Linked DNA regions of Homo sapiens: regions 1, 2 and 4 are each reported to be linked to region 3. Evidence: microRNA targets listed by miRTarBase, many of them from high-throughput screens and not tested one by one. Region 3 holds a microRNA gene; each other region holds the end of a gene's coding sequence.
The links. Region 3 holds the annotated microRNA hsa-miR-3926 (UGGCCAAAAAGCAGGCAGAGA, at 1,736-1,756, shown strand). A microRNA usually pairs through its seed, bases 2 to 8, with sites in the 3' UTR of a target mRNA and lowers its output. Matches are read on the target gene's strand: a 7mer-m8 pairs with bases 2 to 8, a 7mer-A1 pairs with bases 2 to 7 and ends in A, and an 8mer does both.

Region 1 (3,085 bases), not on the chromosome of region 3:
TCCCATATCAGAACTACTAAACACACCTTTGTGGTCCTTTAGTTTAACAACTGGCTATCAAGCTGACTGGTCTTCCTAGACTTATCAGGTCTAGCACCCCTCCTCGCATTTGATGACTGCATTTCATTTCAACGAAACATATATTTAAGAACAAATTCTACATCTACTGTTATTTCTGGAGAGGCTGAGTCAGTTGTTTCTATCTCTGTGGTTACTGAGTGCCAATGTATGCTTTTTACTCTAGGGCATTGCTTCTAAGGTCCCATCTTTTTTCCTTTGCCTTGTTTCTTGTATCACTGAGAGCAGAAATGAATTCCTGGTTTTATGCTTTTGAGGCTCAAGCTGCAAAGATGCTTCTCTACACTTTGATCTGGATTGTTCTGTTGACTTTCTTGGACATCTAAAATTTTGTTGTAATCATAAATGGCAATATCAAAGATTTTTATGGCTTGTACAGTGATTGCACATAAGAGCCCACTTCTACACTTGGGCTCTGAGTTGACTCTAGAAGAGCCTTTTCAGAATGGCATTTTGGAGTTGTGCCCCTGAGTTATCAATATGTTCCTTCCTGATGTTTTTTAGTCAAACTTTACCCCCTGTTGACAAGGGGCAGGCACTTTACTTAGTGTGATGCCCCAAAATGATTGCCTAGGAGAAAGTGTGTCCTGGAGAAACATGAGGAATCTCTACTCTGAGCCTGTGAGAAGAATCTTGGTCAGATTCTGCCCAAAGATGATACTCAGAGGTGCTCAAGATTATGTAATCAAAATATAATGGCCAAGGTTTCCTACACTGGTGAAAAACAAAATACCATTCCATTTTGGGGCAAATTCAGAAAGCTGAAGGATAAAGGTTTGTTGTTGTTCTTGGACAGCTGGAATGCAAGGGCAATAGTACTCCATCATATTCCAAGCTGCTAAATCATGAAGGAAACAAGGAATCAAGAAAACATACATTATTCACAGGTGGATACTGGCTGCTATGCACAATTAGGGATATTACTCTAAAAAGAAGAGCTTTCTTTGTTTTCAAAATAGAAATAGCAAAGTCATCCTCCAAGAAAAAGTTCAATCAAATTCAACTTTAAGGAAAATTTAGCAATTCACTATTTTCTATAAGAAAAGCAAAATATGAGCCTTATATTGATAGAAGGAAGACATATTAGCTTATTCTCCTCTTGTCCAACATATGAATGCTTATGTCCAATTAGTGTAGAAAGAAGCACAATGGCATAACTTAAAAATAGAAAAAAAATACATCATGCCTGCCTGATTAACAGTTATATATTTTTCTGCAATATCAACTGAGGCTCATAACATTTATCATGTTAATGTGGCTTTGTTATTATTTTCCACTAGTTTTCATATTTTCCTTGATTAGGCAGATTGCAACATATACAATGAAAGCACTCTTAAGAAAATCAAGCCCCAAACCAATGAATGCACAAATTAACTCTCTGTGTGTTCATACTCCTTGAAGTATTATTTGCTTTGAAAAATACAATGGTGAATTTCATTGCATATAAGAAAATATAGTTCACTCAATCTCTCCAAAGCCTTACTTTGCCAGTCTCCTAAGAATATAATCAGAATTTTGGAAGCAAAAAAAAAGCTGGAGAGGACCATGAATCCTTTAAAGTGATGAACAAATCCTTCTCTTGAAATACTCTATTAAATTAAGAAATAAAATTATAGGGACAAAAATTGCAGGGACAGCTGACTTCGTCTGAGAAAAACAATCTGTTTGCTAGTTTGTGCTCTGTATTTGTATATTTGAATGACTCTGAATCTAACCTGAATATCTAAGACAATTCTCATTTCTCTAATTTTTGTATTTCATGGTTATCTTCGATTAAACTATAAAAACCTCTTTAGGTATGCTGTCAAAAGCTAGTGATGTTGGAAAAACAATCTCTCTTACTCACCCTCTGCCACTAGACACAGTATGTATAGACCAGATGCTGTGTGGAGCTGATAAGGGTCATGCTTTCTTGCTTGCTTGCTTTTTGTTACAACCGTCGTTTCTGATTTTCTACTCTGCTCTGTGTTGTTAACTCTTACTTTAACCACCTAGGAAATAGCCGTTTAGCAAAAATTTTCTTGGCCACCATGCATGATATTGTCCAGAAGTCTCCTCATCTCTAAATGCCAAAATGAAAGACATCATAGTTGATTCTCCGTGCTCAAGCAAAGGGACTGGCCAAATCGGTTTCCTGAGTCTCTGTCTTGATTCCCCTAGCCTGCTCAAATCACAAGAGAATCTTTTAGAAACCAGTGGGAATAATCTTCCCATGACACCATTATCATCTCAGTAAGAAAATCATAGATCATCTTCAAGTAATGTGTTTGCATGGCATTACAGATAATGTTTCATAAGGACAATGCCATCTCAACAGCATGCCGACCTTAAAAAGGAAGATGAGGAGTATCTGGTTATGACCAAATGACTGACAATGCTGTTGAGCCTTCTAAGAATATCTTCCAAATTATTCCCCTCTGAGTAGGCTGCATACTAAACAGACAACATGGAGCACTCAGGCTGTCTAGCCACCATGTGTAAAAATCACTTGCGTTTTAACTGGAAAACCACAAGGACCTTAGTGTATTCATTACTTAGCAGAAGCAACCCAAATGGTATGAAATGGACCACAGGATAGGCCAGCAACTAAGGTATTTTAGCGTCACTTTTGTCCTGGATTGATGTGTTTTCCAAGTCCTACATCAGGCTGTACAACTGGTTTGAGGAGGAATCTAGTCCTTGCTTCCAGTGGGAGGCCATGTTTTAGTTCACATAATAAAGCCAATAGACGATGTTGAAGAAGGAAAAAACCACTGGGAAGAATATGCGGGACCACCGATCTATGGCATTCACATCAGTCAAGTCAGGGATGGTGATTTTCAGTTGGGAGGCGCGTCTCCTCAGGCGACTTTTCTTTTGCGCCACATGTCGTTCCAGAGCATTTCGGCCAAAACTATGCCTGGGCAACCCAGCTTTCCGATACTGGATGCTGGAGGCATCATAGGCTAGCATTGTGCTTCTGGGGTCTCCAAGTCCCATCACAGCCTCAGATGTGGCCATTTCATTT
Region 2 (3,051 bases), not on the chromosome of region 3:
GACCTGGGCCTCTGATCAGAACCACCTCTGCCCTAAGTCCTGGTGATGGGGCCCTGAGGGCGACCAGGCAGGCACAGAGGTTGGGTGGTCAGGCTGGTTTCAAGTGCTGCCCGTGCAGGGCTGGGGCCCAGCACCAGCCTCAGTGTCCTCCTCTCCTCCCCCAGGGGAAATGGAGAAGCACCTGCTGCTCCTCTCCGAGCTGCTGCCGGACTGGCTCAGCCTCCACCGCATCCGCACCGACACCTACGTCAAGCTGGACAAGGCCGCGGACCTCGCCCACATCACTGCACGCCTGGCCCACCAGACACGTGCTGAGGAGGGGCTGTGAGCCTGGGGGCCACTGTGGACAGACGTGGGCTTCAGAAGCTCGCTGGCCTGGGCCCACCAGCATTTTCTTTTATGAACATGATACACTTTGGCCTTCCTTTCCCCAGCGCCCCTGAGGGCCAGAGGCAGATGTGGGCTGCAGGCTGCACAGCCCGAGGGTCTCTGGCTGCGGGCGGTGGGCCCCTTCATGGGGCTCACCTGGTGGATTCACATTAAACCGGTTTCTGTGGGCACCTCTGTCCTTGCTGCTGGTGGGGAAGGGAAGCCAGATCCAGCACCCCCTGGGGGGCCATCGGGAGTGTGGCTGGGGGTGAAGGGGGCTCTGTGGCAATATGGGGTTGGGTAGTGTGGGTGGCAGGCCATCCCCTCTAATCTTGGAACCTCTGAATATGGGACCTCCCACAGCAAAGGGTGACTTTTGTCATTAAGAAAGACTGGGGTGGGTGTGGTGGCTCACGCCTGTAACCCCAGCACTTTGGGAGGCCAAGGTGGGCAGATCACGAGGTCAAGAGATCGAGACCATCCTGGCGAACATGGTGAAACCCCATCTCTACTAAAAATACAAAAAATTAGCCGGGTGTGGTGGTGGGCACCTGTCGTCCCAGCTACTAGGGAGGCTGAGGCAGGAGAATGGTGTGAACCCAGGAGGCACAGCTTGCAGTGAGCGAAGATCGCACCACTGCACGCACTCCAGCCTGGGTGACAGAGCGAGACTCCGTCTCAAAAAAAAAAATTTCAAGACTGGAGAGGTGATCCTGAATTGTCCAGCTACGCCCCATGTCATCACAGGGCCTTCATGACAGGGCCAGAGCCAGCCAGCTTTGAAGACGCGGCCCTGCCCCGACACAGGCAGCCTGGAGAAGCTGGGCAGGACAAGTAGGACATCCCTGGAGCCTCCAGAAGGGACTGGCCTCTGCCCACACCTTGACTTCAGTATTTCTGACCTCCTAAACTCTAATAAAGTCATGCTTACAGCCACTAGATCTGCAGAAGAGCCCTCGCTTGCTCCCCTAGAAGATGGGCCCACATGGCCTCTTCCTGCAGTGCCTGGAGGGTTCTAGCTCCTGAGGTGAGAACCAGGACAGGTTCTGCTGGGCATCACGCCAAGCAGCACATGCCCACAGTACAGCTGAAGTCTGGTGTTGTCCTGGGGCTCCCTGCCCTGGGGAACAGGAGGACAGGAGACGGCTCTTGTGGGAAAGCTGTTTACTGCGTTCTCCCGCTGTGTGTAATTGGGTTCAGTGTGGCTGAAACACAGCTTTGCCCCAGGCTTTGGCACTTCCAGCCCCAGGAGAGGCGCTGAACCCCAGCAAAGGAATGTGTTCCCTGTGGGCAGCCGGTGCCCCTGGTCACTGCAGTTGCCCAAGGCTGATATTTCCCTGGGATCCAGCTGGAGATGTTGGGCTGGGAGGCCCTGTGGTCACTCATACTGCAGGAGAGAGAAGAAGGGTACAGGTGCCAGCTTCTCCCTGCCCTTAAGCGAGGTCAGCTCCACCAGGCTCACGCACTCCAGGACCTCAGCCTGCAGGCGGCCCAGCAGCTCACAGGCAGCGTTCATGGTTCCTGGGGATGGGAGGGTGAGGTCCCCAGTTGGCCTGGGCTGCAGAGAGCAGGTGCTCCAGGCCAGCCCCTGGGTTGGGGAGGGGAAGGCATGGGGAGAGGAAGGTGTCGGCCTGGCCACCAGGCACCCTCTGGACAACAGTAAGCTGCATCCCATGTCACACAGCGAGGTCCTGTCCCACTCCCACCAGGCCCTTGGAGCCACAGCAGTTGGCTGCGGGGAGACCCTTACCACCAGTGGCCAGCAGATCATCCACGACGACCACCCTCTGTCCTGGCTCCAGGGCGTCTTTCTGAATCTCCAGCTCAGCCTGGAGTGGGAAGTGGTGTGTGGTCCTCAGCCTCCCGCAGAAAACAGCTTTGTTGCACAGCTTGGCAGCTGCCACCCTAGACCCTGACTCCAACCCCACCTTGCTGTTACCTGGCTGTGTGAGCCCAGCCTATGTCTCAACCTCTCTGAGCTCCCAAGGCCACTGTAACCACAGCAGCTCCACTTGACACGCCTGGGAAGGCCTTTTAGAACTGGGGGAGAGTGGCCACGGTGGCCTGGCCCTGCCCTTCCTCTGGCCACCCCAGCCCTCTTACCTTCCCGTACTCCAGGGAATAGGAGGCCCACAGAGTGGGGCCTGGCAGCTTCCCCCGCTTTCGGATGAGCACGCAGCCCAGTCCAAGCTCCTGGGCCAGGGAGGGGCCAAAGAGGAAGCCTCGGGAGTCTAGGCCTGTCAGGGTAAGTGACAGGAGTGACTCGGCAGCATGGGAATCCCCAGGGGCCAGGGTTGGCCGGTGGCAAGGGGTACCTGGTTGGCTCCCAGCTGAAAGGCCAGTGACATGCACCATTTAAGGAATGTTACCCATCACCTACCCGGAGCTGCTTCCAGGTCAGAGTGCAGACCTGGGTCTGTCTTTTAAGGGACCACTTCTTAGCTGTGTGTTCCTAGGGGAGTCACCACCCCTCTCTCTGAGCTGAGCAGCCCATCTGTAACTGGGCTGGTAGAAACCTGACAGGCCTCAGCTTACTCTCAAAGGCAGCTCTGCACCAGGGCTTCTGTCTAAAAAGGGAGTCTCTCGAGGTGGCCTGAGCTGTGATGGTTGGGGGACGCTCAGGGAAACCCTGCCCCGGCCTGGCAGGAGGTCAGGGAGGGCTTCCTGCAGGAGGTGAGAAGG
Region 3 (3,095 bases):
CTCAGCTGACACGTATTTCCAGCCTCTATCTGTACGGAATGTAGTGGAGACCACTGCTCTAGAGAACTCATGATTGCAAAGATGAGGTGGGGCTGGTGCGGGGGAGGGGACAGTCAAAGAAAAAGTAGTGCAGAAAGGACAATGAGAAAACAAATGTAGAAGTGTGCAAATTTGGGTTTATAAAAAAGTGACTTTTGGAAGAACAGAAAAGCCACCATACCTGAAGGTTTTCCTCCCTCTCGGGCATTGATCCGAAATGCTGAAGAATTTGGCTTCGAAATCTGTCTCTTAAATTCTGAAACCAGCTGCAGGCTTGAGAGTAAACCAAATCATGAAGCTCTCTGAGATTCTTAATCTCATCTTCATTCTCAACCTAGAAATACAATAGTCAGTAAGACTTCTGTGTCTAATCCCCCGTCCATATGCCATATGCCAACCGACACAAATGGAAAAAGGGATCAGAAGAACAGGGCAATACCTGTTTCAGTGCTGACGTCCCAGAGAGTATTATTCCTATGCTTTAATACACATTTCTGTCTCATATAGGGCTGACCAGACTAAAGAAAGACAACAAGGCCTGACCTATGCCTAACCTTGCTGACTTAGCAGTGCAATATTGCAGAACCCTACAACAGCCCTCAAGTGGGAAGAGTAAGATTGAGAGTGAGTTCTGGTTCAGAGGTCTAATTTGGAATTCCATTTGTCTTTATGGATCAATGGTTTTTGAAAGCAGTGGAACAAAAAAGTGGATGATAGTTGCTACAAAAAAAGAAAAGATAAGTAGTTAGGGTGTAGATGACATGACAGAAAGTAGTAACAGGAGGAGTCCAGGCACAGTTACATCTTTTACTAGGGAACTGGGTCAAAACACAAAAACAAACAAAAAGCTACAACAAATAAGTTAGCATATAAAGCCAGTATGTCAGAGAGTCAATTACACAATGATGAGCTTCTGCTGGCAAGGCCCAAGGCTATGGCTACCTCTGGAACCCCTCAGTGTATTCTTTAGACTACTGGGTCACCAAACTGCAAATGTAAAATTAATTGCATCAGGCTTCCAGCCTGAGATAGAAGAGTAGTCTCAGAGAACACAGGTGGGAAGATCTAAGTTTAACTCATCCATCTTATACTGATTTCTTTAATGCACACTTACATCCCACTTGCTACTTGCCAGGTCGTGCTCTGTCTCATATGCACAAACTCATCTGAAAAAATACCAGGCCTGACTCAGCCTTTCATACTTCAAGGATGACTCATTTAAAAACAACAAAGGGACTCTGAAAACATTTCGAAATATAAAAATAAGACTACAGCACACCAGAGACAAAAAAGCAAACTTTTTACTTTTGAAAGATTTGAAATGAAAACTAAAGTTTAAAGAGCATCTGTTTTTTGCATAACAATGTGAATGTACTTAATGCCACTGTGTGCACTCAAAGATGGTTAAAATGGTAAATTCTATGTATATTTTACCACAATAAAAATAAACTTTTAAAAAAGGTAGAGGAGCCACACAATTGAAGAATTTTGGTCCTGAAATGACTATACATGATTCAGGCCCCTGCTAACATACATTGATAGGAGCAAGAAACAAACTTATGCCTTGTTAAATCTTTTTTTTTTTTTTTTTTAAAGCATCTGCTCTGCACCCTCACAAAATTCAAGAAAACAAATGACAGGCTCTGGTAAACAAGGAATGATAACAATTATAAGCGTCAGTGATGAAAAACGGAGCTGGCCAAAAAGCAGGCAGAGACGCTTTTAAAGTCTCTGCCTGCTTTTTGGCCAGCTCCATTTTAAAAGCAAGCTTTTAAAGTCAAGGAACTTTACTGTGATAATTTTAACAGAACTTAAAATTTCATTAGAAGTCACAGAAAACAGAATTATTATAAGAAGAGGAAAATTTGCCATATAAAACAAATTTGAGAAGGTTTTCCAGAATGGACAAGAAAATCATTATATAGATGAAGACATGATGAGAAAAGATTACTAGACATTCCGAGGACCAAAGAGGACTCGTTTATAAATATCATATCTGTAATACTTTTAGAATGTGATTCTATTGCCTACATGTTTGTAAGTATTAATACATATAGTCATGTAATTTAGCCATATACTCAAGTGATTTTGTCATCAAATCCAATAAGTGAAGACATAAATTTACACAAAACTGAAATATGGTTATTAACTTTACAAAGAAGAACCTTTAGCAAGTGATTCCATTAACCAAGTATGCCTAAGGCACAGATTCTATCAATCAACTCAAAATTTCAACTCACACAATACTTTCGGCCAACTGCACAAGACAAAGTACCCCCATAGCATTTTTATAATAAGATAGGACTGCCAACGTCAGACTAATCAGGTTTATCAACAGAGAGCCAAATGGCATAGTGATAAAGCTCAAAGTCTGAGTCAGACAGTTTGCTTTAATCATTTTTGTTACATTATCTATAGGCTCTCAGGCAAATTAATTAACACCTCTGAATTGTACTTTCCTCATCTACTATTTCATAGAGTTGTGAAAATTCTATGAGTTAATGTTTGTGAAAATACCTAATGCCAATATCCAATAAATGCTGACGAAATGAAGGGCCTAAACAGATCAATGAATAAGAGAAGGGATAAGATCTATGTTTTTATAATGCCTTTCCAAAAGAAATTGCCTTCAATTTGGTATTTGTAGCATCATAAGTCACTTTTCCGGTTCCTAAACTAACTGCAGTAGGTAAACTGGGTATTGCAAACATCAAAAGGGCCACATTAACCCTATTCTAGAAAGACATCACAAAAACCCTACCCTGTTAAGATATCACCAACATGTACACTGGCAGTGCTTTCTATGTCTGCCCCAGGGTCTTCACACAGCATTCAACTCTATTTTATCATTAAGGTTATCTTAGGCACAAGAACAATCTTAATATATAAAACAATTCTTATAAGATTTGATGTGTTTACATTTACATCAAATTTCAATCTACTAATTCCATCGGCTTCAACTACTAATACATTCAATAAAACAGGGCAGAAATGTAAACCTTTCAAAACTTAGATGGGTTGGAAGTTCAACTTATTCAACCACTATTGTTAAGTAC
Region 4 (3,095 bases), not on the chromosome of region 3:
CATCCTGGGCTGGCTGCACTGAGTAATTGCTGACCTACATCTCTCTGAGATGCAGCCCCCAGAAGACAAGCAAAGAGATAATGCAGCAAGCCAGCTCATGTGGTGGCCAGAGGGTTTGGTGCAAGAGCATCTGTAGTAAAGTGTGGCCAGTGATGGCCATTTCTCTAGGCTCAACTGTCTCCCATAAGAGACTTTAGCCCTACGGGAACTGTTGGGCCTAATTTCTGCAGGATGGTCTTGCAAATCAGAAGAAGCTGGTCCAACTGAGCACTCCTTGGTCTGCTGGCCTCTCCCAGGGACCCAGTCTGGCCACAGCTGCTTACAGGGCAGTCTCAGGTACCCTGGAAGCTCATACCAGAGCATCTGCACTGGAGGGACATGCCTGACTCATGAAGAGCTCCAGCAAAGCAGCCCCTATGACTGCACCAGCCCACATTTCTTCCCCATACTGCAGCTTCCCGTGACACCATGGCAACTCCTGATATTTCTTTGCTGGCACATGTCTGCAAAGGCAGGTTTGGCTTTGCTTGCCCCACCAGCAAATGGGAATGCAATATGCCCCGCCACCCCCAGCAACTGCCATTGTAGATGAAACTTTGGTGGGCAGAGAGCCAGAAAACTCCACCCCTGCCTTTGTGCTAACACTGTGCAGAGAACAGGGTAACCTCCCACACTCTGAACAATCACTCTTTCTTGGGGGGCACAGAGAAGGCATCAAAACCTTTACTGGCCAGTATCCTGCCCCAAGCCAACACCACCTTTAGTGCAACAGCACACAGCCTCCAGCAGGTATCCCCCACTCCCTTCCCAGCTGCTTTGCTCCTGCCACTGAGGTGAGTACCCAAAGACAGGCAGAAATCCCATATCCACTAGCACTCTGCTCCAGCTATGGCACCTTCATCCCACAAACTCGCAAACTCCAAATCTCAAGGAGCCAGAGAACACAGTTGGGGCTCAAAACAAGTCCCCCGGAGTTAGAGTATGCAGCCTCTGAGTTGTGAGCTGAGCATTGCCCACCCACCACCACCACCAAACAAAACAAAACAAAACAAAACAAAACAAAAAAAACCTCCCAGGAACAAAGCCTGTTGGCTGCATCCATCTTATACCACAATCAAATACTCAAGACCATCAAATAGGATTAAAAAAAAAAAAGCCCAAAGGTCAGCAACCTCAAAGATATGCCCACAAAGATAAGACACAATCAGTGCAAAGATAAAAACACAAAAAGCCAGAGTGACTTCTTTCATCCAAATGACCAAATTACATTTCCAGCAAGGCCTAAGATGACAGAAGTAGAATTCAGAATATGGGTAGAAACAAACTTCACTGAGTTACAAAAGTAATTTGCAACCCAATGCAAGGGAGGAAAAAAAATTGCAGGAACTGACGGAAAAAACAGCCAGTCTGGAGAAAAAATGTGGCCAACCTGATAGAACTGAAAAACACAATACAAAACCTTTATAATGTAATCACATATATTAACAGCAGAATAGGCCAAGCAGAGGAAAGAATCTCAGGGCCTCAAGACTGGCTTTCTGAAATCAGACAGACAAGAACAGTGAAAAAAGAATAAAGAGGAATGAACAAAACCTCTAAGAAATATGGGATTATGTAAAGAAACCAAATCTATGATGCAAGAGATTGCCTGAAAGTGATGGGGAGAATGAAAACAACTTGAAATACGTATTTCAGGATAACATCCATGAGAACTTCCCCAACCTAGAGAGGCCAACATTCAAATGCAGGAAATGTGGAGAACCCCAGTAAGATACCCCAGGAGAAGGTCATCCTCAAGACACATAATCATGAGATTCTCCAGGGTCAAAATGAAAGAAAAAATATGTTAAAGGCAGCTAGAGAGAAAGGCCAGGTCACCTCTAAAAAGAAGCTCATCAGGAAAACAACAAATCTTTCAGCTGAAATCCTACAAGTCAAAAGAGATTATAGGGGCCAATATTCAACATTCTTAAAAAAAGAATTCCAACACAGAATTTCATATCTGACCAAGGTAAGCTTCAGAAGTAAAAAATATATATGATCCTATTCAGACAAGCAAATGCTGAGAAAATGTTACCACAGGATCTGTCTTAAAAGAGCTTCTGAAGAAAGCATTAAATAAGAAAAAGACTATTACCAGTCACTACAAAAGCACACTAAAGTATACAAACTGTGGACACTATAAAGCAACCACAGAAACAAATGTGCAAAATAGCCAGCTAAGATCCTAATAACAGAATCCAATCCACACATATGAATACTAACCTTAAATGTAAATGGGCTAAATACCCAAATTAAAGCACAGATGGCAAGCTGAAAAAAGAATCAAGATCTAATGGTATGCTTTAATCAAGACACCCATCTCAAATAAGCTCAAAATAAAGGGAAAAAGAAAAGCCTACCAAGCAAATAGAAAACAGGAAAAGAAGCAGGGGTTGCAATCCTAGTTTCTGACAAAACAGACTTGAAATTAACATAGATTTAAAAAAAAAGGGCATTACATAATAGCAAAGGGCTATATATGTACCCAACATATAAGCAACCAGATTATAAAGTAAGTTCTTAGAGACCCTCTAAGATGATAAATGTTCTTCCACTGTCATTACATTTATACTGCATTTGTTCAGTATTAAATTTCAGATGTTGAACACAGTATGAGGACTTGGTAAAGGCTTTTCCACATTTTTAACACTTGTGGAGCTTCTCTCTAGTATGAATTCTCTTATGTCTGATGAGGTGTGAGAACCAGCTCGATGCTTTGCCACATTCTTCACATTTGTAGGGTTTCTCTCCAGTGTGAATTCTCTTATGATTAGTCAGGTCTGAGAAGCACTTAAAGGTTTTGCTGCATTCTTCACATTTGTAAGGTCTCTCTTCCATATGAATTCTCTTGTGGTTAAAAAGGGTTGAGGAGCGGGTAAAGGCTTTGCCACATTCTTCACAGATGTAGGGTTTCTCTCCAGTATGAATTCTCTTATGTTTACTAAGGGCCGAGAACCACTTAAAAGCTTTTCCACATTCATTACATGTGTAGGGTTTGTCTCCAGTATGAATTATCTTATGTTTAGCAAGGTCTGAGAACCACCTATAGGCTT

Region 1: the mRNA of GABRB2 is a reported target of hsa-miR-3926. Seed matches in the 3' UTR shown: 8mer at 2,197-2,204 and 7mer-A1 at 775-781.
Region 2: the mRNA of CDT1 is a reported target of hsa-miR-3926. Seed matches in the 3' UTR shown: 7mer-m8 at 415-421.
Region 4: miRTarBase lists ZNF736 as a target of hsa-miR-3926. Seed matches in the 3' UTR shown: 7mer-A1 at 1,422-1,428.

The regions. Positions count from the first base shown.
Region 1 is chr5:161,291,300-161,294,384 of GRCh38, forward strand. It overlaps GABRB2 (gamma-aminobutyric acid type A receptor subunit beta2), which reads right to left. Exons shown (of 10, transcript NM_001371727.1): 10 at 1-3,085. The coding sequence ends at 2,782. Among named protein-coding and RNA genes, the nearest start is that of GABRB2, 250 kb to the right of the region's middle.
Region 2 is chr16:88,807,951-88,811,001 of GRCh38, forward strand. CDT1 (chromatin licensing and DNA replication factor 1) reads left to right here. Exons shown (of 10, transcript NM_030928.4): 10 at 165-1,308. The coding sequence ends at 328. APRT (adenine phosphoribosyltransferase) reads right to left here. Exons shown (of 5, transcript NM_000485.3): 3 at 2,473-2,606; 4 at 2,120-2,198; 5 at 1,389-1,890. The coding sequence ends at 1,748. Among named protein-coding and RNA genes, the nearest start is that of APRT, 2.5 kb to the right of the region's middle. RefSeq lists an enhancer at 2,312-2,847.
Region 3 is chr8:12,725,507-12,728,601 of GRCh38, forward strand. It overlaps MIR3926-2 (microRNA 3926-2), which reads left to right and starts at 1,731; the gene lies at 1,731-1,793. It overlaps LONRF1 (LON peptidase N-terminal domain and ring finger 1), which reads right to left. Exons shown (of 12, transcript NM_152271.5): 11 at 221-373. MIR3926-1 (microRNA 3926-1) reads right to left here and starts at 1,798; the gene lies at 1,726-1,798. RefSeq lists an enhancer at 1,296-1,345.
Region 4 is chr7:64,348,738-64,351,832 of GRCh38, reverse strand. It overlaps ZNF736 (zinc finger protein 736), which reads right to left. Exons shown (of 4, transcript NM_001170905.3): 4 at 1-3,095. The coding sequence ends at 2,686. Among named protein-coding and RNA genes, the nearest start is that of ZNF736, 36 kb to the right of the region's middle.